Linked DNA regions of Homo sapiens. The protein of the gene in region 7 purifies or fractionates together with the protein of the main gene of each other region. This does not show direct contact. Each region holds a gene or a part of one and is shown on either strand. Other genes may lie near its edges.

Region 1 (3,500 bases), on a different chromosome or scaffold from region 7:
CCACATAGTTTCTCAGCCTCCCTCTCCACTCAAACGTCTCGTGCTGCCTCCTCCAACCTCTCTCAACTGAGGTCCTTGCTATTTCACTAAAAAAGGAGAGCATTCAGAGAAAATATCCACAAGCTTCTACACATTTGCCCACCTTCCTCCACCTGTGCCTAAATGCTTGCTGTTCTCTCCTGTGACCACAGATGAACTGTCTCTGCTCCTAGCACTGAAGTCTTTCATAAAAGCACTGCTCCACAAGTTCTCCTTGCTTCTACTACATGATTAACGTTTTCTTTCCTCTCTACTGGATAGTCCCATCAGCAGACAAACATTCTCTGTTCTTAAAGAAAACCCTTCCTGGATTTCACTTCAACTACTTCCCATTTCTTTTCTTCCTTTTAAAGGAAAACTCGAGTGTCAATATATCTGTCCTCAAGTTCTCTTCTTAAATCCACTCTAACTGCTCACATCAGAGTCACCAATGATTTCATACTGCTCAATCCAAAGATCGATTCTCAGTTTTCATCTTACCAGATGTCCCCACAGTATTTGGCACAGCTGATGATTCCCTCTTCTCTGAAACACATTCTCCATAGCACACCCTCCTGGTTTTCCTCTTTCCTTTCTGGCTATTCCATCAGTCTCCCAGTTGCTGGTTTCTTCACATTTTTCTAACCTCTAAACACTGGAGTGCCTCAGGGATCTGTCCTTCGCCCTCTTCTCTGTTCTACCTCACTTTCTTGGTGATCTCAAGTCTCATTCACGGACTGGCTTTAACTCCTATCTAGATGCTGATAACTTCCAAATTAATAGATCCATTTAGGACCTTTCTCAACTGCCTACATGGATCTCCATTTGATGTCTAATAGACATCTCAAACTTAACACTGAGCTCCTGATTCACCCCCTTCCCATAATCTTTGCCATCTCAGCAAATGGCAATTCGTTTTTTTTTTTTTTTTTGAGACAAGGTCTTTCTCTGTTGCCAGGCTGGAGTGCAGTGGCGCAACCATGGCTCACTGCAGCCACAACCTCTGGACTCAAGCAATCCTCCCATCTCTCAGCCTCCCAGTAGCTGAGACTACAGGTGCATGCCACCATGCCCGGCTAATTTTTGTATTTTTTGTAGAGAAAGGGTTTCACCATGTTGCCCAGGCTGGTCTCAAACTCCTGGGCTCAAGTGATCCACCAACCTCAGCCTTCCAAAGTGCTGAGATTACAGGTGTGAACCACTGTGCTCTGCCTCGACTGCATTCTCTTACTCCCTTAGTCATCCTCTCTCTCACACTGCACACCTAGCCTGTCAACAAATCTTATTTGCTCTACCTTCAAATCATCCAGAATCTGACCACTTTTTCTCTTTGCAGTTCTATGACCCTGCTCTAAAACACCATTATCTTTTCCCTAGATTACTGCATTGCTTAATTACGTTCCTGCCTTTGCCATTGTCCATTCAGTTTATTCTCAACACAAGAGCTGGAGTAAGTACTATGTGCTAGATGCTACTGTGGCACTAAAGACACAAAAATGAAGAGATAATGTGTTGAGTAGCTACTATGCCAGGCAAATTACATAATTTTATTTTACAGTCATATAACCCTGTAAGGCAGGAAATATTAATCCCATAGAAGAGTACCCATGCTTGAAGAGGTTATCTAATCTCTAACCCAGAGTCTGGGTTATTCTTGCTTGTAAAAAACCTTGTAAAGTGATTTTAGAAATCCTTCCCCACTCTTCCTTTTACCTAAGCTCTTAGGGTAACAGCACCTGTATTTTTATTCTTTATTTTGATCAACATATTCAATTCAAAATTAATACTGGTAGAAAGTACTGTAGGTGGTTAAAAAAACACTGAAGACTAAAAAACTAAAGATAGGTGATAAAAAACTGAAAACTAAATATCTGTATTTCCAGATATTACAATCTAGTAGAACAAAGCAAGCTGGCTTTAAATAAGATTTGCTTAAAAATGAGTAAATGTAACTTATGCCATAATTTACCTCCAGGTACAAAAATTCAACCCAAATAATTATAATAAACAAAAATGTATTTCACCCTGGGGGGAAAAACTGGCTATATCCTGGTAAGGCTAAAAACATACTCATTAATACAAAACCTACTGTGGAATAAAACTTAGGCTTTCAGGGAAAGCACAGTCAATCTGGAAGAGTAAAGAGAGAAAGGAGAACATCTAGCACCGAAATCTCACTGAGGAGCAGATATAGTCAGGTAAGGGAGGCTGGAGGTAGATTTCTTACAACAGTCATCCTCTCTTATCCTCGAGGAATATGTTCCAAGAACCCCAGTGGATGCCTTGGAGTACTGAAAACTATAGGTTTTTTCAATCTGATAACCAAGATGGCTACTAAGTGACTAAGAGGCGGGTAGCATATACAGCATGGATATGCTGGACAAAGGCAGGATTCTCGTCTGGGCCAGGATGGAGATTTCACCATGCTAGTCAGAATGGTGCACAATTTAAAACTTAAGAATTGTTTACGTATGGAACTTCCCATTTAATCTTTTTGGACCAGGATTGACTATGGGTAAGTGAAAGCAAAACCACGGAGAAGGGTAGACTACTACACTGTCATACAGATGACCAGAATTTGCATCTGGCCTCACAGCTTTACTGATCAACAGAACTGAATAAAGTTCTTCAGAGAACTACCAGAAGTTTGCCAAATCTATTTTTTCTATATCCTGGTTTTAAACAAATTTAATCCACCTTCTTGCCCGGACTCAAAAGCCTGAGCAAATAATAAAACGGCCTTTTACTACCCGAGGTGGGGGATGGGTACCTCTTTTCAAGGGTGTCGTCTATTTTGGGTCATTAGTTACTCAGTGAATTCAGTATATCATTTTTAGAGACTATCAATCTGAGGGAATACTGTTCTCTCCCGACCTTTTTAGAATGTAGGACAGAAAGGGTTGAGGTTAATGTAGGCTGTTTGTTTTCATTTATGAGGTTCTTTTCCCAAGTCATTGGATAAGCTTCTCTTTTTTTAAATACACTGCAAATAAAAGCTTTCACCATCCTGAAAGTTTGGATGGTATTATATAAGCATCGTTGTATATACCAAAGGAAAGGAAACAAGTTGTTTCATAAAGGAGATTTTTGACTTAAATAATTCTTGAATACACACCTCCCAAACTGCTACTTTCCTACATTGAGATGGTTTATTCTTGGTGTCTAGAAAGAATTTGACTTCTTTTGTCCCCTGATTACTTTAGATATATATATTTTTTGAGACGGAGTCTCACTCTGTTGCCCAGGCTGGAGTGCAGTGGCACGATCTCAGCTCACTGCAACCTCTGCCTCCCGGGTTCAAGCGATTCTTCTGCCTCAGCCTAATGAGTAGCTGGGACGACAGGCACCTGCCACCATGCCCAGCTAATTTATGTATTTTTAGTAGAGACAGGGTTTCACCATATTGGCCAGGATGGTCTCGAACTGCTGACCTCATGATCCGCCCACCTCGGCCTCCCAAAGTGCTGGGATTACAGGCGTGA
Region 2 (3,500 bases), on a different chromosome or scaffold from region 7:
TTTTTCTTTTTAAACTCTTATAGGGATGGATCGTGACTATGGCCATGGATCCTATGGGGGTCAGAGATCCATGGATTCCTACCTAAACCAGTCATATGGCATGGACAATCACAGTGGTGGTGGTGGGGGTAGCAGGTAAATTGCTTAATCATTTGGCCAAATAATTAGACAACTATAAGATTTTGGATATATTATTTTAAGTACTCTTTAGGCATGTTATGATACTTGAACTTCACTGTTTGCTATTGAATCATCACCTTAAATATTTAAAGGTGTTAATTAATGGGTATAAAATTTAAATCAGTATTACTGGCAGACGTTATTTTAGGAAAACACCAGATAACTATATCATGTCAATATAATAGAGTAAGATACACTTTTTAGCAGTGAACTTTTAAAAAATTCTTTTACTTTTAACTTCTTGTCAATCAAAGTATCCTGAAAAATGATATAAAAATGTTATTGAAAATATTATTTATGAAGCTTTTTCTTAATAATTAAAAAAAATCTTTTCTAATGTGGGGTGCTATGTAAATTAGCAAAGCAGTCTAACTAGAATGGATTTTACTGAACCAGTCTAACATTTACTTTCCAAGAAACATTCAGGACATATTCCTTTAATTCTAATTTTAAAGGAAGAGCATATTGCAATAATAAAAATATTTTTAAAATTATGTTCAGGTTATTTATTGACAGGTACTACTTACACCAAAGCACTTGTGCTCTAGGCTAGAAGCATTGTATTAAAGCCATGAATACTATACCTTTGACTAGTCGAGATTGTATTTATATTTTCCTGTTACTACTGTATAAAGCTTAAACCTACTTAAACAACTACAAGCTTTAAGGTTGACCATATTTCAGGAGAAGGGGTGTCTACTTTTTGAGGCACAAAGGTTCCTGCTGAATATAAGTAAAACTAGTTAGTAGACATGTGAAACAGTCATCCTTCTGCATAAATTGAAGGATCCGGATTCCTTAATGATGGACTGAATGATGCTTACTTTCCTTCTTTCTGCTTCCAGTGTACCACTATGGTTTATAGTAAAGAAAAATTAAGAAAGTGAACAGTTGCAACTATTTTGCTTATGTGATAGATGTTTTGAAAAATGTAGTTGGAAATAGGAATAATTTTTATATGGTTACTAGGATTCAGAAGTAAATCTATTTAGTGATCTGTAAATAATTGAAGTAATGTAACACTTAATGTTTTAATATGTCAGTTATTGCCCTTTTATATTGTGAATGTAATGTGCATAAGCTATATCCGTAGATGTTATTGTTTTATCTCATGTGTAATTGTGGGCCTTTATAAAATTGTGTTGTAAGATATCAAGCAACTTTTGTAATCCATGCTTTGGGTTTGTGAGAAGGAAGATGATTTATTTCTTCTGTTAACTCTCTTAAAACCTCGAGGAGACTGTGTGCTCCCTTTTTTAGGGTAGTTTTATGTGATAATTTCCTGAAGGAAATAATTTTGCAAATAATTGAATATATTATAAGATGTATTCTTTCTCATCTGCCTTGAAAATTCATATGCAGAGGGTATATGTTGGTGATCTTTTATGTTTTATCTGTTTATCCTTCTAGATTTGTTAGATTTTCTAGTCTACAAGTAAAAAGTGATTGAGGATTGATTAATTGACCTTGGCTGAAGTTTGGCAGATTGTTAAATTTTTATAACCAGAGATAATTCCCCAAATTTTGACTCCTACAGACACAATGAAGCAGTTTGTGATATAGATTATTGGGAGTGCAAAAGGATCTCTCTGTGTCACAAATAACCTACATCTAAGTAGACTTCAATTTGTGTCCCTATTGAAAGCCAAAATATTGTAAATGTTTTGTAATTTTTAATATTAGGGATAGATTCAAAAAAGTTTGAATAGTTTGTGAACTTTAGCAAATGACCTTTTCCAAGACTAGGGCTGGGCTTAAATAATGACAGACAAATCTTTTCTTCTTCATAAAATAGAAAAGCTGCTAAGAAGCAGATTTTAAAGCTAAGTTTTACTAAACTCAATTCATATTTATAATCTGACTCAGATAGCTTTCTATCTGGTCTCACGTTGAACTGCCCAGCCCTAATCAAATGTGAACAAAAGTAGAACTGTGCAAACCAGTATGGTATAAATGAATTTTAGTTGATAAATGTCATCTGATAATTTGTCTTTTGAATTGTCTAACATTAGTAAGCTTACTTTTGTTTTTTCCCTCACTGTGCAACTTTTCCAGGTTTGGACCTTATGAGTCTTACGACTCCAGGTCTTCTCTGGGTGGGCGAGATCTGTACAGATCTGGCTATGGTTTTAATGAACCCGAACAAAGCCGCTTCGGAGGTAGTTATGGTGGTCGATTTGAGAGCTCCTACCGGAATAGCCTTGACTCTTTCGGAGGTAGAAACCAGGGCGGGTCTAGCTGGGAAGCACCTTACTCCCGTTCAAAATTGAGGCCTGGGTTTATGGAGGACAGAGGAAGAGAGAATTACTCTTCCTACAGCAGTTTTTCTTCACCCCATATGAAGCCTGCACCTGTAGGCTCTCGGGGGAGAGGAACGCCTGCTTATCCTGAAAGTACGTTTGGAAGCAGAAACTATGATGCTTTTGGAGGACCATCAACAGGCAGAGGCCGAGGCCGAGGAGTAAGTACAACAGAATCTTTTCAGATTCTTTTCACTAGTCACTCTTTTAAACCCTTTCAAGACCATCGTTTTCAACTAGAATAAACACTGTTCATCCCGGTGTATTTTGAAGCAAAAGCTGAGTCATAAACATAATTTTTAGGTTGACTGTAAAAGTTTTTCTAGCACCTCAGAAAATAAGTGGCAGTTTGAGATGATCATAAAGTTGTGCCAAATCTCCCTTTATTAAAAAGGTGAGGCTACTGGTTTGGTCTAAAAGGGGTTAAAAGGAGTTGCATTTTCCTTGTAAACACTAGCAGTTTTGCTGGTGGAATAGTTTGTGGATTATTGTGAAAGGTCACTGAACCCTTTTTGAGTTTTTGAGTAGGTTAAAGGTGCAATGTATGATAAAATGTTTATACTTTGTGGCTAAACTCTAGCAAGTAGAATTTCTTCAAAGCTCCATGTTTCACATTAAACACAGGAGACTAAAAGTTGATGATAGATCAGGATAGCTTAGCCATGTTTATGTGGTGAAGAAGTTGATGTGTATAATAGATTGTACAATGATTTGTGGTCAGTGTAATTTTGCTAACTCACGCTTACAATATGTCCAGTTGCTGGTTGTTTTATTTTCCCTCGTGTTACTAGTTTTACTCTTGAGAAATAATTTCCACCTGTACAGATATGTTTATGGTTTCTTCTTAGGAAGTAATATTTTGTAAATTATTGCTTAAATGAGTAAATATACTAGTCCACAGTTGTTTAAGTTTAGGGTACATAGTGTAAACATTATGCTTTATGTTCTTAGGTCACTTGATTGACATGAAAATTTACCTAGTAAGTGTATGCAGATTGTGGGGTTATTATATAGTTTGAT
Region 3 (3,500 bases), on a different chromosome or scaffold from region 7:
AATCTCGGCTCACTGCAACCTCCAACTCCCTGGTTCAAGTGATTCTCCTGCCTCAGCCTCCCGATCCCGAGTAGCTGGGATTACAGGCACGCGCCACCACGCCCAGCTAATTTTTGTATTTTTAGTAGAGACGGGTTTCACCATGTTGGCAAGGATGGTCTCAATCTCCTGACCTCATGATCCGCCCACCTCAGCCTCTCAAAGTGCGGGATTACAGGCGTGATCCACTGCACCCGGCCAATTTTTGTATTTTTTATAAAGACAGGGTTTCGCCATGTTTCCAGGCTGATCTCGAACTCCTGAGCTCAAGCGATCTGCCTGCCTCAGCCTCCCATAGTGTTAGGATTACAGGCGTGAGCCACCACTCCCAGCCTCTCAATTCTTTCTTACCCCTTCGCAATATATATATATATATTTTAGTGAGCCAATGCTTTATGTTTTTATGGAAATAATAGTTTCATTTTAGTCTTATTCATTGATTATTTTATCATTTCCCTTTTACCTATTGATTGATAGTCTGTGTTTCTAGGCTCAGCTTGTCAATCGGAAACAGAAATTAGAGTCTGTGGAACTTTCTAGCCAATCAGAAATTCAACACTTAAGCAGTAAACTGGAGCGGGCTAATGACACTATCTGTGCCAATGAGTTGGAAATAGAGCGCCTCACCATGAGGGTCAATGACTTGGTTGGAACCAGTATGACTGTCCTACAGGAGCAGCAGCAAAAAGAAGAAAAATTGAGGGAATCTGAAAAACTATTAGAGGTATGTTTTAAAATCACTATAATTGGGGGAAGTGTGTGTATGAGTATTTTAAGAGAGTGTTATTAAGCTAGAACTAGGTTCTACAATCCATACTTTCTTCCCTACTTTATAAATGATGGATCAGATATTGATAGTTTTACTAATATTGTGACTTTATTACAATATTTACAATATTGTAATATTGTTACGTAACTTATAGTCTGACTTCCTGGCTTCTCGTGAAATAGAAAAATTGTAATAATAGCTGGCTTAGAAATTTCTGAGTATTTTGCAGGTTCTGCAGGAATTAAAAAGAAGGAAAATTATAATCATATTTGACTTTTTTGCAGGCTCTGCAGGAAGAAAAGAGAGAATTGAAGGCAGCTCTTCAGTCTCAAGAAAATCTCATACATGAGGCCAGAATACAAAAGGAGAAGTTACAAGAAAAAGTAAAGGCAACTAACACTCAACATGCTGTAGAAGCTATAAGGTAAATTTAATCTTAAATATTATTCATCTTAGCCACTTAATGACTAGGTATTAAGCACTAGGCTTATTTTTATTTTTATTTTTATTTTATTTTCAGATAGTCTCCTGTTGCCCAGACTGGAGTGCAGTGGTGCAATCTCAGCTCACTGCAACCTCAACCTCCGAGGTTCAAGCCATTCTCCAGGCTCAGCCTCCCAAGTAGCTGGGACTACAGGTGCATGCTACCACACCTGGCTAGTTTTTTGTATTTTTAGAGACGGGCATTCATCATGTTGGCTAGGCCGGTCTTAAATTCCTAACCTCAGGTGATCTGCCCACCTCAGCCTCCCAAAGTGCTGGGATTACAGGTGTGAGCTGCCACGCCCATCCAAGCACTAGTTTTCATATTGCATATTCATAATTTTATGTTTGATCATATTGTGGATTTTCTTAATTGGCTTTAACTTCTGAGTTAGGTTTTTAAAGTGTTATAAAATTTTGTGTGGTTAATTTTCTTCTGCCACCAGTTAGGGTCCCTAACAGAGACTCTCATGTTTAGAAAGTTAGAAACCAAGGTCAGTTTGCATGCTTGGTGAAAATCCAAATGTGCAGGGAATTGTCATCCATGTCTCCTGGAGGCCTCACTTTGTTGGTGGAATAAGTTGTGATTAGTAGCTGCTTATCATTAATAGCAGCCAGCCATTGGGCTAGCCCTCTTGCTTGATTTAAGTCTGATGCACACTTTTATTTTTGCCAGAATTCTCCTGTAACTTTTCAGTTTTTTTGGTACAGGGTTTCAAGTGTCACTGAAGTGATTTTGCCATTTTGTCTTTTTCCCTTGAAAAAAGGCCAAATCCCAGTTAAGAAGGGAGTAAATTGCTACTTTTTGAAGTATCAGCATCTCTTGACTCTTTCTTTCCTCTCCCAATATTCTTTTTATAAAGCAGGAGACAAACTTGAAGAGTTCCAAAGAGGTTACCAAAAATGATGGGGAAACACAGACTAGATGAGCATTATTTTTGTTTGCAGAGATAAAGGCGTTAACAATCATCCTATGTCTTTCCATAGGCCACGGGAAGAATCTCTGGCAGAAAAGAAGTACACCTCTCAAGGGCAGGGGGACTTAGACAGTGTGCTCTCCCAGTTGAATTTTACCCATACTAGTGAGGACCTTCTGCAGGCAGAGGTGACTTGTCTTGAAGGCAGGTACATAATTATACACACATTTCAAAAATTTCAAGTTGTTAAAATGAATTTTTGATCATCATATTGTAAATGAATGTAATAGTCATAGTAAAAAAAATAAGATTTTTTTCTAGTATCCACAAATGGCCTAAGTTCTTATTTCTTTTTTTTTTTTTTTGAGACGGAGTCCGCTCTGTCACCCAGACTGGAGTGCAATGGCACAATCTCAGCTCACTGCAACCTCCGCCTCCCGGTTCAATTGATTCTTCTGCCCCAGCCTCCTGAGTAGCTGAGATTACAGGCGTGCACCACCATGCCTGGCTAATTTTTATATTTTTGTAGAGACGGTGTTTCACCATGTTGGCCAGGCTGGTCTTGAACTCCTGACCTCAGGTGATCCACCTGCCTTGGCCTCCCAAAGTGCTGGGATTACAGGCATGAGTCACCGCACCCTGCCCTAAGTTCTTATTTCATTGAGAAGACAGAAGCAATTAAAGGAGAACCTCTTAATCTTTCTGTCATCAAATCTACCAGTCTGCCCATACCTGTGCCTTTCTGCACTTCTAAGACCAACCACTCCACTTGTGTCCTTTTTCTGTAGTTATATCCTTTCTCTTCTGCATCATCAAGTTCTTTCTGTCTGCTGAATCTATCCACTGGTATAAAATACGCTGTAACATCACCCATCTGGGGGAAAAACCATCCCTTAATCCTATGTCTCCGTCAAGTTATTTCCACATTTCTGTACTTCTCTTTAAGACCAAATTCTTCAAAAGAGTTGTCTATACTGACTCTACTTCTTTACCTTTCACCTGTTTAGCAGCCCTTCACTTAGGTTTTCCTCCTTGCCACCTCAGAAGCAGGGTAGGAAGGGGTAACAGTTGACACATGGTGATCCTTTTTGTTCTGCTGTGGTGTTGTTACTTCCTTGGGTGTTAATTGAATCCTGACTAATGCTATACCATACCCACCTAAACACTTGTCATTGTCGTACTTATAGAATTTTTTTTGGTTTTTCATAACCTCTCAACTTTTTGATTGGGAAGAGTGTGATATCTTGTTTTAAACACATGAATCATGATCATTTGTACACTGACATTTTCTG
Region 4 (3,500 bases), on a different chromosome or scaffold from region 7:
CACATGTGTATCTTCCTTTTTTTTTTTTTTTTTTGAGATGGAGTGTCGCTCTGTCGCCCAGGCTGGAGTGCAGTGGCGAGATCTCAGCTCACTGCAACCTCTGCCTCCTGGGTTCAAGCGATTCTCCTGCCTCAGCCTCCTGAGTAGGTGGGATTACGCCCGGCCACATGTATATTTTTTCTGGAACTACCTTATTCAATCATTCAGTAAGTAAACATTGCACGCCAGCAATGGGAGACACAATATTAGGTGTTCAAGAGAGTGCAGATGTATGTACTGTATTATAAATAAACATTTTCAATATGTTTGCTAGGTAAACATCACCTAAAGAATCAGGTAGAGGTGTGTTTTAGTGTTTGTGCTCATTTCTCCCTATAGCACATCACTCCTGTATCTAGGAATTTGACTAAAGCTATTTTCTTCACTTAGAAGTTTTGATTAGAATGTTTTTAATTGCTCGGAATCACCTGTATTTTCCTACTGGTTACATTTTTTCTAATGTTTCTCCTGGGGTTTTCATTGTGTTTTATACCTTTCCTCAGAAACTGTGTTATGCTGCCACCACCAGGCTGTTTTTCATATCTTTTATTAGAGCAATACTAAGAAACAGAAATGCTCATTGCATCTGCTACCTTGAGTTACCTTGAGTGTGTGAGGTTAGAACAGTTAATACTTAAAGAGAAGTTGTAATTTGAATTTAGACCCCTCTTTATTAGAGTGCTTCTATAATGGCAGATAAGTGTTCTGGTAGTTGAAATAATACACAAAAAAACAAGTGTTTAATTTTTAATTTTTCAAAAAACTCTTTTCTTGATTTTTATTTGTATTTATTTGTATTTTTTGAGATAGGGTCTCGCTCTGTCCCCTAGGCTGGAATGCAGTGGCAGTGTCTTGGCTCATTGCAGCCTCCACCTCCCAGGCTCAAGCAATCCTCCTGCTTGAACCTCCCCAGTAGCTGGAATTACAGGCACGTGCCACCACCCCAGGCTAATTTTTTTTTGCATTTTTGATAGAGACAGGGTTTCACCCTGTTGCCTAGGCTGGTCTTGAACTCCTAAGCTCAAGTGTTTCACCCGCCTCGGCCTCCTAAAGTGCTGGGATTACAGGTGTGAGCCACCATGCTTGGCCTTGAAAGTTGTGTTTTGTTTGTTTGTTTGTTTGTTTTCTGAGATGGAGTCTGTGTCGCCCAAGCTGGAGTGCAGTGGCACGATCTCGGCTCACTACAACCTCTGCCTCCTGGGTTCAAGGAATTCTGGTGCCTCAGCCTTCCGAGAAGCTGGGATTACAGGCACGTGCCATCACACTCGGCTAATTATTTGTACGTTTAGTAGAGATGGGGTTTCACCATGTTGCCCAGGCTGGTCTTGAACTCCTGACCTCAGGTGATCCACCCACCTTGGCCTCCCGAAGTCCTGGGATTACAGGCATGAGCCCCCGTACCTGGCCTCAAAAGTTTTTAAAAATGTGGTTAACGTAACTTAAAGATCAGCTGGGCGTGGTGTCTCACCCCTGTAATTCTAGTACTTTGGGAGGCCAAGGCAGGTGGATCACTTGAGGTCAGGAGTTCGAGACCAGCCTGGCCAACATGACGAAACCCGTTCTCTACTAAAAATACAAAAATTAGCTGGGCGTGGTGGCGGGCACCTGTAATCCCAGCCACTCTGGAGGCTGAGGTGGGAGAATCACTTGATCCCAAGAGGCAGAGGCTGCAGTGAGCCAAGATTGCACCACTGCACTCCAGCCTGGGTGACAGAGTGAGATTTCGTCTCAAAAAAAAAAAAAAAGAAAGAAGGAAATCCTTCAGAAATTCTTTATCTGAGTGCTGTGACGTCCATAGTGAAATTTATTACTTGGAAACTACATAGTGGTTGTGAGAGGAAATAAGTAATAAATATTAAATGGTATTAAAAAGATTATGCAACTGGGAAAGAAAAATTAATTTGCTATCGCTACCATGATTCACCATCACATCTAGCTGTCTTCTACAGCCTTTTATTTATTTATTTTTTTTTTGAGACGGAGTCTCAGTGGCGTGATCCTGGTTCACTGCAACCTCTGGGCCCCCCCCAACCCACTGCGAGTTCAAGCAATTCTGCCTCAGCCTCCCAAGTAGCTGGGACTACAGGTGTGTGCCACCATGCCTGGCTAATTGTTTGTTTTTTTTGTATTTTTAGTAGAAACAGGGTTTCACTGTGTTAGCCAGGATGGTCTTGAGCTCCTGACCTCATGATCCACCTGCCTCAGCCTCCCAAAGTGCTGGGATTACAGGTGTGAGCCACCGCACCTGGCCTAATTTTTGTATTTTTGGTAGATAGTGGGTTTCACCATGTTGGCCATGCTGGTTTTGAACACCTGACCTCAGGTGATCCACCTGCCTCTGCCTCCCAAAGTGCTGGGATTGTAGGTGTGAGCCACCGGGCCCACCCTACAGTCTTTTATTCTTTCTTTCTTTCTTTCTTTCTTTCTTTCTTTCTTTCTTTCTTTCTTTCTTTCTTTCTTTTTTTTTTTTTTTTGAGACGGAGTTTCGCTGTTGTTGCCCAGGCTAGAGTGCAGTGATACAATCTTGGCTCGGTGCAATCGCCATCTCCTGGGTTCCAGCGATTTTCCTCTCTCAGCCTCCAGAGTAGCTGGGATTACAGGCTTGTACCATCACACTCGGCTAATTTTTGTATTTTTAGTAGGTACCGCTTTCACCATGTTGGTCAGGCTGGTCTCAAACTCCCAACCTCAGGTAATCCACCCGCCTTGGCCTCCCAAAGTGCTGGGATTACAGGCATGAGCCACCGAACCCGGCTTTCTACCTTTTTCTAACAAGTATATATTATGTGCACAGATAGTTGGAGATAAAAAGGGGAATAAACCAGTCTTTACCCATCAGGAATTTATAATCTAGTTTGATAAATGGTATACTCACTCATTAAAAGTTAAATATCAAAGTAAGAAGTGTCACTGCAGATGAATTGATTAAATGCCTTATCTATTCTATAATTTGTAGAAATTCCTAAAGAGGTTGTTAAGATGCCTAGAGATACTCTGAGGGTGCTGTTTGGTTCTCTTGTACCCTTACAGGGTAACTTGGCAGTTTCTTGTTCTCTATGTTGGGGGCCACTATTAGGTTTCTAAGAGGCACAGCAGTAGGGGGATTCTAGTAAATTTTGTCTTTTACTGCACAGTGTCTCATGGAGACAGAGTCTGCACAGTGGAAGGAACTTCAGAAATAATATATGGCCCAGGTTTTCACCGAAGGCAAACTCAACTTGGGGTGAATCTGGATGATGTTTTTTTTTTTTTTTTTGGTGGTATCATTTAAAAACAAGACATATACTTATATTCATTGGTTTTTGTTTGGAGGAGAAATTCTTTGACGTAGACTATATCTTTTTTTCTTTTTCTTTTTCTTTTTCTTTTTGAGATGGAGTCTCTCTGTTGTCCAGGCTGGAGCGCAGTGGCTCAATGGCACGATCTCGGCTCACTGCAATCCCTGCCTCAGCCTCCCGAGT
Region 5 (3,500 bases), on a different chromosome or scaffold from region 7:
GTACCATGACAACTTGTATATTAGCAGCTTGACAGACAGCTTCGAATTTTCACAGACTACTACATGAACTGTTATGGCAACGGAAACTTTTACAAATAGTAGCATGTTAAAAGACCTGTCCACCTAACAGTACACTACCCACCGCTCCCATCAGAGACATGACACGGTTTGTTTACATGATCCAAATGACCATCTCAATGGTGATTCGCTGTTATCACTCACATCAGCTAACACTACTCTGTGTATTTATATGTGTGTATACATATTTATGAAATGAGAATACCTGGACAGTCTGATTGGTTAACAGCGTATTGGTACAGTTTTGTCTTCTATTACATGTCATTCATTTCAGCCCTCAATTTTAGAACTCTAAATAAATAAAATGTAATTTACAAAGATAAATTGTTATTTACAAATGCAAAAATTCATCCTGAGGATTTTGGTATCTAGGAGAACTGTTTCACAGAAAAAAGCAAGTATCAATCTGTGAAATAAAAATGCACCTTGAGTTAAACTAAATAATTCATAATTACAGGTTAATTTACCCAAGTTCCAGCCAAGAAAAGCATGAAGATATTTAAGAAATCTTAAATTGATTTGCATGCAAGAAATTAATCACATACAACTTTTCAAATCCCAATGTTATTCCCCCTTAAACTTCTTGTTTAATGTTTTAGTCTGACTGTATTTGTAAAGTAGGTGACAGAGAAAAAAATACCTGAGGAAAGCTCAGTAACGTGCTGAGGGTTCTTTTCCTCACTGGAAAGCAGCGGGGCTTCAGGCCACCATGAGAAACAGCCAGTGGGCCTTTGACTTTACCCAAGTTAAGCTCCCCTAATAGGAGTAGTTAGCTAAACAAGTTCAACGCTTTCCAAAGGAAAAAGGTCAAGTTAAAACAAAAATCTAAATAAAGGTAAAATATCAACAGTTTCTCTGCTTTACAATGTGACCATAAAATTACTTATTTACAGAAATTAAAAGAAATGGTTCAACAAAGAATCAAACTGGTTTCTCCAGGTATATACCATGACAATGTATCTTTTTACTCGATGCTGTGAGCAGACAGTGATTATTTTGGAGAAGGAAAAATAAGGTGTGGAATTAGTAATGCAGATGCTGAAAGGCAAGTGGCAAGAGAAGAATGCCTCAAACAAAGGCTACTTTGTTCCCATCTCTACTGCACCTACACCCACACCCGCCCCGGCCCCCAAGCTAAAAGACCAGAATAACCAAAGCCATTTTAACAGTAGTGTGCAAAACTGTCAGCTGACAAACAACATAAAAACAAGTCACACTATGTTATCTGTGGTCACGTTCTTCAGGGTTAGTCCAGTAACTCAAGACTTTACATTCTTTTGTCTTTATTTGTTTATTTTAATTAAACATATAAAGGTTAATAAACAGACAAAGTCCAGAGTTAGTAGGTTGGTATTATAACATTTATTAAAATAATGCTGTGGGTTAATAGAAACAGCAAAGAACCAAAGAATTAAAATGCAAGCTATGTAAAATCCCAACTAAAACCCAAAAGTGTCTAATGTATTCATTCATTAGCTAACTAAAAGCCCAAAAAAGACAAGACACCCAATATAATAAAGTACTGCAAAACAATTGGCAATTTTCAGTTATCAAAATTGTGGATTTTGCATTTTGTATCCTTTTCTCAATCAAGAAAAAAATTCTTTTTGAATGTTATATAACATACATATAAAACAAGATAGAAAAATACATTATAAACTTGTAACAATGGCTGTAAATACATTATCTTACATGTTTCTCATAGGCAATAGGTTGGTTATGGTACATACATAGCATGAAACTAAGATAATAAAGAATAGACAAAAATACATGTCAGCTGTACGATAACATACAAGCGACACTCCCATCTACCCACGCTAAAAAATTACATAATACTGTCAGAAAAAAAGTCTTAAAAACTACATATTTTAATAAGAAATAAATTCAATAAAGAATGATAATACTGAGAACCAAGGCATTCAGAGATTTCAAAAGTCATGCTTTTTTCAGTTGATCCAAAATTTTGTCAACCAAGTTTTCAAAAGTTTGTTCAGAGCCAACATTCCCTATAAATGTCACACATTTATTATTTCATACATTTACTTTCTTCCCCATAAAAGACCTTTGATAAACATCTAAAATGTCCAGGTATAACATAGTTGAGATGAAACTGGATCAAATACTGGTATTGTTTTTAACAACTATCACCTCAAGTGTTTGAGTGTCGCAAATTTATTCAACCAACCAAACAATATAAAAATCAAAATGGCACAGCATATATTGTAAATAAATCAAAACTGTATGTGTAACAGAAAGACAAAGCAGTGGCATATTAAACCAAAGCTAGCTGGATACAAAACAATGAATGTCTATTGCATAGTAAATAAACTGACAACGGTTTCCAAGTGAGACAAGATGGTGGGGGAGGTCACCAAGAAGGTAATGACTCAGCTTCCTGCTGACCTCTGACTGTGATGCTGGGAAGGTGTGGAAGAGGGGACGAGTTGATAAGCTGGGCGGGGGGGGGGGTCCACTGTCACTTGAGATTTGCCACGTCTGGTACTGAGCAGTTAATGATTATTCACTCAAGTGTTTAGATGTAGGCTTTGCACACAAATTGCTTCAACTACATAACTAACTGTTTCAACTTCTTGAGAAATTAGAAGCTTAAGCTGAAATGTGGTTGAGTATTTATATGCACTATGATGCTAGTTTTTCACATTCTTTTAAAGTTAAGGGGTGGGGGAGGCAGAGGTTATTGAAACAGTAAAAGGATACACTACACCAGTTATCTGGTATGATATAAAGACATGTGATTAAATTTGGGTGATTTAAAACATTGTTTTCTAGAATGAAAATCACAAAGATTCACTTTTGTGAAAACATTTGCTAGGTATCCTATTATATTCAATTAATTAAAAACAAAAAACAAAATCAAATGAATGCATCCCCCTTCTCCAAATAAAACAAAGCTCTAATTTTGTCTGTAAACTGAAGTTTAGATGACACATAATTTTTATCTCAGAATCCTTTGGGTTAACATTGAAGATTGGAATAACCAAAAGTATTAAACTATTCTTTTAAAGAATGATGTTTTAAAACTTACTAGTCAGGCATTAGAAAAGTTATCAAATCTTTTCACAGTATCAGATTTGGCAAATTTGCATCAAGGTAACGTGGCAAAAATCCTATAATTCAAACTATCAACTCATTTGTCTCCCTCATATCTTCTTTCACATACTGGGCGACTGAGTAACATGCATTAACTTGTATTCTGAGGGAGGAGCTGATCTTTATGAGACACTTGACTGAATGACCATGAAGGAAAATAAGGCACTTTCTTTTCTTTAGACTTATTCCAATACTTAAAAAATAAAAAAGAAAGACAAAAAGGCTCTTTTGGTCTTTTGTTTCTTGACAACCACCAGAAAAAATCATTTAATGAAATAAAGGGTTTCTTTGTTCTTTTTCTTTTTTTTTAT
Region 6 (3,500 bases), on a different chromosome or scaffold from region 7:
CCATTAAAAGTAATAGCACTAACCGCAATTACATTTGCACCAAGCTAATACTTTTTCCTTCTTTTTCAATAAGGAGCCTTGCATTTTCATTTTACACTGAGGCTCTGCAAATTATGTAGCCAGTCCTGCCCCTAGGACCTGCTTCAGGTCCTAGGGGAGGGGAAAGTTAGCCTTACTCCAAGCCTCAGAAATGTCTTTCCCAGAGTCTAGCTGTCCTCACTTGGGGACAGGCACCCACAAGAAGAAAGTACCTACACAGGGTGGCTCCACACAACCCCAAAGCTAAAACTGAGAAACCTGAAGCTAGAAAGGGTCTTGTGCAATCAGCTGGTTCCTGCCAGCACCCTTGTGCCAAGTCACAGATGATGCCAAGGGCCCAGCAGCCAGGGAAGGAAGACAGCCTAGTCCAGTAGCCAACAGGTATCCCAGTCCCAGATGCAGAGCAATAAGGATATGAAATGAAGACGCAGAGGAGGCCGTTTGAGCCTCCACCAGCCAGCTTCCTGCTTTGAGCATTGTTCTCAACAGCAAGCGACTGTATCCAAGAAGCCTGGGTCTAGGCACCAGCCTTGACAGGCCTGTTCCTGGCTGTTGAGCTTCTCTCACCTTGCTTATTCTCCTCCACCCCAATCTCCTTCCCAGTAAGGAGTTTTCCAAGACCTGGAATACCTAGAAAACTCATTGGGTCTCTTTAAAACACTGATTCCTCAAGAGATGCCAAGTGCCTACTCAGCTCCCAGCCCTGGGCTGGGTGCCTAAGTCACAGAAGTGGGGAATAAGATGCCTGCCTTCAAGGAACAGCCTTGGCACAGGCAAGGTGGCTGAGCCCCTCTTCTCTGCCATCTCCTCATTGCCTCATGACCTATTTAATGCCTGCTGTAGGGGGAACGGAATTCACAAGGTTCCATGAAACCCCTGAAGAGCAGCCCAGTGTAATACTCTAACTCCCATGGCCTCTTCTAGAAACTTCTCCCTCATAGGTCCCATGTTTGAAAAAGCTGTGTCTGCCAAATTGTATTTACTAATAATCAATGTCTTCAATTTCTTACTAATCAGAGACATGTACCACCCCTAATCAACATAGGAGACCAGGGGGTACTGCCCTTCCAAAGTACCTCAATCCCCAGAAAAAGCAAAGATGGAGTCTGGCCCCATAAGCCTTGGGGAAGCCTAACTCAGAGCAATGGCATATGGGCATTCATCTCCTTCAAGATGCATGGCCTGGGGTAGGAGCTACCACTACTACTGTGGCTATCACATGAGGGACCAAAGACCTATGTTCCAGTCCCAGCTCTAACACTTCAGCAAAATCATTGAACCTTCATGGACCTGAGTTTCATCATCTGAAGAATGGGGATGATTCTTCCCCTCCTGCCTCCAGGGGCTGCTATAAGGATCAAATAAGAAAAGACACAAGAAAAAAAACCATCTGCTATAGGAATGTCCAGGATTACGGCAAGATTCTATGTCTGTAAAACGAAACTAGTAGTAGTTCCTACCTCATCAAACTATTGTGAGAATTAAATCAATGACAGTTACAGAACAGTTCCTAGCATTTTTCAAAGACCCAAAAAGATTAGGCTGTTATATAATTATTACTACTATTATTGCTACTTCTGTTAATGACACTATTATCACAATTACTATTATACCTTGCTACCCAGCTAAGGGATTCATAGTAGAGAAGTGCTAGAGTACAAAAAGTCTTCGTTTTATTTATTTATTTATTTATTTATTTACAGACAGGGTCTCACTCTGTCATCCAGGCTGGAGTACAGTATCACAATCATAGCTCATGGTAAACTCAGACTCCTGGGCTCAAGCAATCCTCACACTTAAGCCTCTCAAGTTGCTAGGATTACAGGAGCATACCACCATTAATTTTTTCATTTTTTGTACAGATGAGGCCTCTCCGTGTTGCCCAGGCTGATCTTGAACTCCTGGCCTCAAGTGATCCCCTCGCCTCCGCCTCCCAAAGTGTGGAATTGCAGGCATGAGCCACTATACCCAGCCAAAAAATCTTTTTAAAGGGGTTATCAACATCACTTAGTCTAGAACTGGGAGAACCAACAGTAGATTTCTTATACATTTTGTCCCTCATTAATGCAAAATTGAACAAAAAGTGCAGAAATCAAAACAAAAATTCACCTGCCTAACCTCAAGCTTTTCTGCTTCAAGAAATGGACTCCGAGGCCAGGCACAGTGGCTCATGCCTGTAATCCGAGCACTTTGGGAGGCTGAGGCAGGCGGATCACTTCAGGTCAGGAGTTTGAGACCAGCCTGGCCAACATGGTGAAACCCTGTCTCTACTAAAAATGCAAAAATTAGCCAGTCATGGTTGTGCACACCTGTAGTCCCAGCTACTTAGGGGGTGGCCGAGGCATGAGAATCACTTGAACCCAAGAGGCAGAGGTTGCAGTGAGCTGAGATCGTGCCACTGCACTCCAGCCTGGGCGACAGAGCAAAGCTGTCTTTAAAAAAAAAAAGAAAGAAAAAGAAAAGAAAGAAAAGAAATGGACTCTGGAGAGTATTAAAACATTTGCTGGCCAGGCATGGTGGCCTGCATTTGTAGTTCCAGCTACTTGGGAGGCTGAAGTGAGAGGATCACTTGGCCCCAGGAGTTCAAGGCTGCAGTGAGCTATGATTGCACCACTGCACTCCAGACTAGGAGACAGAGGAAGATTCTGTTTCTTAAAATTTTTTCAAAAATTAAAATGTTTTAATCTGCTAAATATGAGGAGCAACTGAATACATCCTGTAAAACCTCACACAACTTTCCTGTGCAAGGAGCCATTAGGAAAAATAAAATCAGCCATGTCAATGCTTTGTCGCTCTCACTTTATGAGCCAGATTAGAGGAGGCTCCTGCCCTCAACACAAAAATCAAACATTCAGAAATGCTCACGGCAAAGCTAAGAAATCAGACAACAGTAAAACATTTTTCATGTGGGGGGCGGGGGATGAGGGAGAGAACAATTACTCCCAAAACCCTTAAGTCTCTCAAAAAATTGTCACAGAAGGACGTCAGAAGTACAATCACCTGCCACAGGGCCCTGCCTTTGAGGGTAGGGAACACTGTCACACATTGCTTTTTCTAGGCCTGGGAGGAGTCAGCCAAGGCCCTGGGGGCACAGGAGCTCACTGTAGGAAAATCATTAGGGACCTCACAGACAAGTTACCATGGAAGAGTCAGCAAAGGTGTGGAAGGCTGTGCTCCAGCCTCCAGAGTCCCACACGCGGCCTCACACACCCAGCCCAAGGCTGCACCTGGTACTTTGGGACACTTGCAGCCCTTCCTCCCGCCAAATGAATGATGGGCCCTGCCCCTGGGTGACGCTAGTGAGATGCAGGCCATGGATCCCATCCCTCTCACCTTCTTAGAAACACTGCTCCAGCAACTGCCCCGTCTCTTTACTGCAGCATCGACTTCTTCCTCTCAGTGGGATCATTCCCATCAAAACAAACATGCTGTACAATCTCCCACCAAAAAAAAGAACCCTC
Region 7 (3,500 bases):
AGTGATGTCCCAACATCTTCTTTAATGCTGGAGTCCTCATTCCAAACACCTGACCTGCCCCCCTCCCAATATGCAAAGCTAATTAAGAGCAGGGCACCATTTAAAAACCACTCCTCTGTACATTTAAGAAAAATGCCTACTTTGCATTTGGATGACTCAGGTCCCTGAGAACCAGGGCTCCCATGCTGAGGCTGAGCATCTCAGCTCCCAGACCCAAAAACCCTGAGACACAGACATACTTGTCTTTCAATATAAGTTTCCTTTTATTTTGAAATTGAAACAGCAAAATGAAGTGGTTTGTGGCTGAAACAACCTTCACGGGAAAGAAAACTGGAGTGTTCGTTCATCCATCAAAGAACAAACTCCAACGTGTGAGCCAGCTGCCCCACCTCCCCCAAAGCAATGAACAGATTAAAGGATGGGAGGAAGGATACAATCAAAATCGGGTGGTGATGGCTGGCAGATTTCCAGTAAAATACAATTTTCAAAGTTGCCGCAATTACAGAATAAGCTAGCACTCATATTTAAAAAAAAAAAAAAAAAAAAAACTGTCCCAAGCAGTAGGCCTCCAGCTCTTCCCAATTTGCACTCATCAAAATACATCGTTCCCTCTTCTGAGTAAGTGATGTTTCAGAACTGCTTACAAATCCACTTTGCCTCAGGGGAGGAAGCTCTTTTGATTCACTCTGGTTTTGGGGACCAGGATCAAGATCCTGGAGAAAAGGGAGACTCCAAATGGTGATAGAGGACGTTTATTCATTATGGTAACACATAATCTGCTGAAATTCATTTTGAACGTGCTTTTACATAGCAGTGGCTAACATAAAATCTGCACAGAAATGTTACAAGTGGCTCCCCAGCCCCCACAGCCGGGAAGTGCCAGTCAAGATTTAAGCATCCCCAAAACAAAGCCTTTATTCCTGGGGGAGCTTATTGGCAGGGGAGGGGGGACAGGGGTGACTGAAGTCAGCTGGCTGGGAGGGGAGAAGGGAGAGAAGCACAGGAAGGACTCACTGGCAGGAATAGGGTGGGGGATGGGGTGAGACAGGCCAGGGGCAGACTGTGAAAGCTGTTACCTGTTGGAATAGCTAGCACGTTATCTTAAACAAGTGAAGAAAATCGCCAAAGAGTGAAACTTATTTATGGGGGAAAAAAAAGCTTGGGAAATTAAAACAATCCAGTGGTCACTGGAAAATGTCTCCCTTTTAAAAAAAAATTTTTTTTTTTGGTTTTTTTTTTTTTAATTTTATTTTTTGGAAAGTATTCTCAAGGTAATATTTTTTTCCTTTGGAAAAAGAAATCTTTTTCCCCCCCTAACCTAAGCAAGTGGAGCTGCCACTACCTAATTTATCTATTGTTTTGCTAAGAGGTAGATAAAACAAAAGTGAAATGGGGCTTCTATGAGGAGGTCCATTAGAGGGTGGGTGGGGAGGGGCTGGGATCGCCCAGTGGAACTCCCCCAACTACAAAGACGGCCTGAATGAGTCCAAGGACCGCGCCCTCAGACTCCCCCAGGGCAAAGGATCCTGCTTCACCTCTTCTCCTTCTAGAGCCAACTGGGCCCCCATTGAAGACTGAAAAAGGGCCCAATGGAGGTGTAGGATCTCAAAGAAACCCTGTTGAAGAGGTCTCAGCTCTGGTTTCCCCAGGCTTCCTGACTTTGGGGCTGTGTGGTGGGTTCCAGGCCAAGCCCCAGGTCTCACTCCAGCCAGCCCCCTCTAGAAGGGAAGAGGCCATTCCTTTCCTCACCATCTGGTCCAACAAAGCTATAGAAAGTGAGAGAGGGACAAGCTGGAGGCCAAAGGGGTGACACATGGGCAAGGAAAGCAGAAAGTGGGGACCTCATGGCCAGCCCTCCCAGCCCAATCGATATGGGGGGGATCCTGGCAGGCCTGCCTGTTCCCCAAGGACAAACCTTTTGTGGCACAAGCCTCAACTCACTTGTCCTGGCTGGGATTCATACCCTTATGCATGAGTCCCTGCCCTTAGTTCCAATCTTACTGTAAGGATTGAGGTAGTTAATCCATTTATACTCGTAGCATCCATCACCTGCGGTTAATCAAAACACATGCTCCCGAGGAGCTTCCTGCTATTTCATTCAAGAAAAAAAATTTTTTTTCTTTTGTCCATCCGGAGTCAACCATACTAAGGCGCCAGCAAAGGCGCCATCAGACTGTGCCCCAAAGCGGTGCACAGGACCGAGGGTCAGGGCTGGGGCTCTCGCCCCTAAATCCCCCTTCAGACATGAGGCCTCCTCCCTGTCCCGTACCCCGATAGAGAAGCCTTATGTATCCAAAGGAAAGAAACTGCAGTTTTCAGCTGGTGTTACTCTAAGTCTGAATACAGAGAAATGTTCTGCATCTAAATTGTCGAGTATTTGGAAGGGAAATGGCTTTTATGTCCCCTGGCATTGATGAGGATTTTTCTTCAATCTTCCTGCAATTACTGTGACAGGCTGTGCTGTTTCCCTTCTACTGGTTTTCAAGAAACAGGCAAACAGTCGAGTGGTTTGAATGGCAAAGCCACTAGGATCTCCCCATAAACACTTCAGGGGAAAGAAAGGAGAACCCCCACCCCTGATGAGAGGTGGGAGGAAGGGGTTGCCTAGAGGCACCAGCTTCTCCTGTGGAGCAAGAAGGCTCAAGCAGGCCCTCTGGGGCTCTGTGAGGTAGTTACTAGCACTGCTGGTTCCCAGTTTGGCAGAGGGTATGTCTGGGTTGGGAGGAGGGGAAGGCACCCTTGAGAGCTAACTGAGGCCCCTCCTCACTGCCCGTCTGCCAGGCCTGAAGGGAACTCGGCAGTGCTATCTCTGCAGTAGGGGCAGGGGACAGAGCAGTCCCACAACAGGGAGCTACCTGGAGCCCCAAACTTCCTCTCCTTCCCCAAAGTGCAACCAGGAGCCGACAGACCAATTTCTCGGCTCCCTACCCCTTGGCTTGGCAAACACCACACCCTAATCCCCCAGGAGCCTCTGAAGGGAAGGGCCTCGCCCTTAGCTCCCAGTTTCCAGGAGGCCTTCCTCCTCAGACAGCCAGGTATGTGTCGAAAGCTGGCTATTGCTTTGATTCAGGAACAGCCTCTCTCAGCCTCTGTCTGTCTGTCTTTGGCACAGAGGAAAATGGACACAGAACCAACTAGAGCATCCCCCTCCAGTGTTCTCTGGGTTTTAAATGGGGTCTTTTCTGCCAATAGTGAGGCATAAACAAGGATAGCTCCCAACTGCCTCCAGAAGGAGGGGGTCAGGAAAAAGGAAAAAAGATTGATAAGGACTGGGAGGAGGGGAGGAAAGTAGAAAAGGGCTATAAAACTCCCTGTCCTTAAAAATGGCTCTCTCCTAACCAGACCCCTCACAGGAGCTGAGTCCACAACCCAAACTGCAAAAGGCAACCAGACCCGAGAGGGGATTAAAGCCATTTGGGGTGTAACTGGCAGATGCAGCTTCAAAGTCAGTCAGTGAATCAAACCATTTTGGTTATGTGTTTCAAAGAATTTAAAAATAT

Evidence for each region.
Region 1: the proteins of IGF2BP1 (region 7) and TDRKH purify together in Homo sapiens (co-immunoprecipitation; one large-scale study listed by IntAct). This does not show direct contact.
Region 2: the proteins of IGF2BP1 (region 7) and ZNF326 purify together in Homo sapiens (affinity purification with mass spectrometry; one large-scale study listed by BioGRID and IntAct). This does not show direct contact.
Region 3: the proteins of IGF2BP1 (region 7) and CEP63 purify together in Homo sapiens (co-immunoprecipitation; one large-scale study listed by IntAct). This does not show direct contact.
Region 4: the proteins of IGF2BP1 (region 7) and MKRN1 purify together in Homo sapiens (affinity purification with western blotting; 2 studies listed by BioGRID, with this or other methods). This does not show direct contact.
Region 5: the proteins of IGF2BP1 (region 7) and QKI purify together in Homo sapiens (co-immunoprecipitation; 2 studies listed by BioGRID and IntAct, with this or other methods). This does not show direct contact.
Region 6: the proteins of IGF2BP1 (region 7) and PLEKHA7 purify together in Homo sapiens (co-immunoprecipitation; one large-scale study listed by IntAct). This does not show direct contact.

What each region holds. Positions count from the first base shown.
Region 1 is NC_000001.11:151,784,001-151,787,500, forward strand, and holds part of TDRKH (tudor and KH domain-containing protein), read right to left. Parts: intron 1-3,500. UniProt on the Homo sapiens protein: Participates in the primary piRNA biogenesis pathway and is required during spermatogenesis to repress transposable elements and prevent their mobilization, which is essential for the germline integrity.
Region 2 is NC_000001.11:90,005,110-90,008,609, forward strand, and holds part of ZNF326 (DBIRD complex subunit ZNF326), read left to right. Parts: intron 1-23; coding exon 24-135; coding exon of another isoform or gene 136-139; exon of another isoform or gene 140-1,336; intron 1,337-2,235; coding exon 2,236-2,641; intron 2,642-3,500. UniProt on the Homo sapiens protein: Core component of the DBIRD complex, a multiprotein complex that acts at the interface between core mRNP particles and RNA polymerase II (RNAPII) and integrates transcript elongation with the regulation of alternative splicing: the DBIRD complex affects local transcript elongation rates and alternative splicing of a large set of exons embedded in (A + T)-rich DNA regions.
Region 3 is NC_000003.12:134,545,057-134,548,556, forward strand, and holds part of CEP63 (centrosomal protein of 63 kDa), read left to right. Parts: intron 1-529; coding exon 530-763; intron 764-1,092; coding exon 1,093-1,232; intron 1,233-2,278; coding exon 2,279-2,416; intron 2,417-3,500. UniProt on the Homo sapiens protein: Required for normal spindle assembly.
Region 4 is NC_000007.14:140,473,006-140,476,505, reverse strand, and holds part of MKRN1 (E3 ubiquitin-protein ligase makorin-1), read left to right. Parts: intron 1-2,016; exon of another isoform or gene 2,017-2,125; intron 2,126-2,678; exon of another isoform or gene 2,679-2,731; intron 2,732-3,500. UniProt on the Homo sapiens protein: E3 ubiquitin ligase catalyzing the covalent attachment of ubiquitin moieties onto substrate proteins. These substrates include FILIP1, p53/TP53, CDKN1A and TERT.
Region 5 is NC_000006.12:163,571,718-163,575,217, reverse strand, and holds part of QKI (KH domain-containing RNA-binding protein QKI), read right to left. Parts: 3' UTR 1-3,500. UniProt on the Homo sapiens protein: RNA reader protein, which recognizes and binds specific RNAs, thereby regulating RNA metabolic processes, such as pre-mRNA splicing, circular RNA (circRNA) formation, mRNA export, mRNA stability and/or translation.
Region 6 is NC_000011.10:17,007,915-17,011,414, forward strand, and holds part of PLEKHA7 (pleckstrin homology domain-containing family A member 7), read right to left. Parts: intron 1-3,500. UniProt on the Homo sapiens protein: Required for zonula adherens biogenesis and maintenance. Acts via its interaction with CAMSAP3, which anchors microtubules at their minus-ends to zonula adherens, leading to the recruitment of KIFC3 kinesin to the junctional site.
Region 7 is NC_000017.11:49,052,885-49,056,384, reverse strand, and holds the end of IGF2BP1 (insulin-like growth factor 2 mRNA-binding protein 1), read right to left. Parts: 3' UTR 240-3,500; downstream 1-239. UniProt on the Homo sapiens protein: RNA-binding factor that recruits target transcripts to cytoplasmic protein-RNA complexes (mRNPs). This transcript 'caging' into mRNPs allows mRNA transport and transient storage.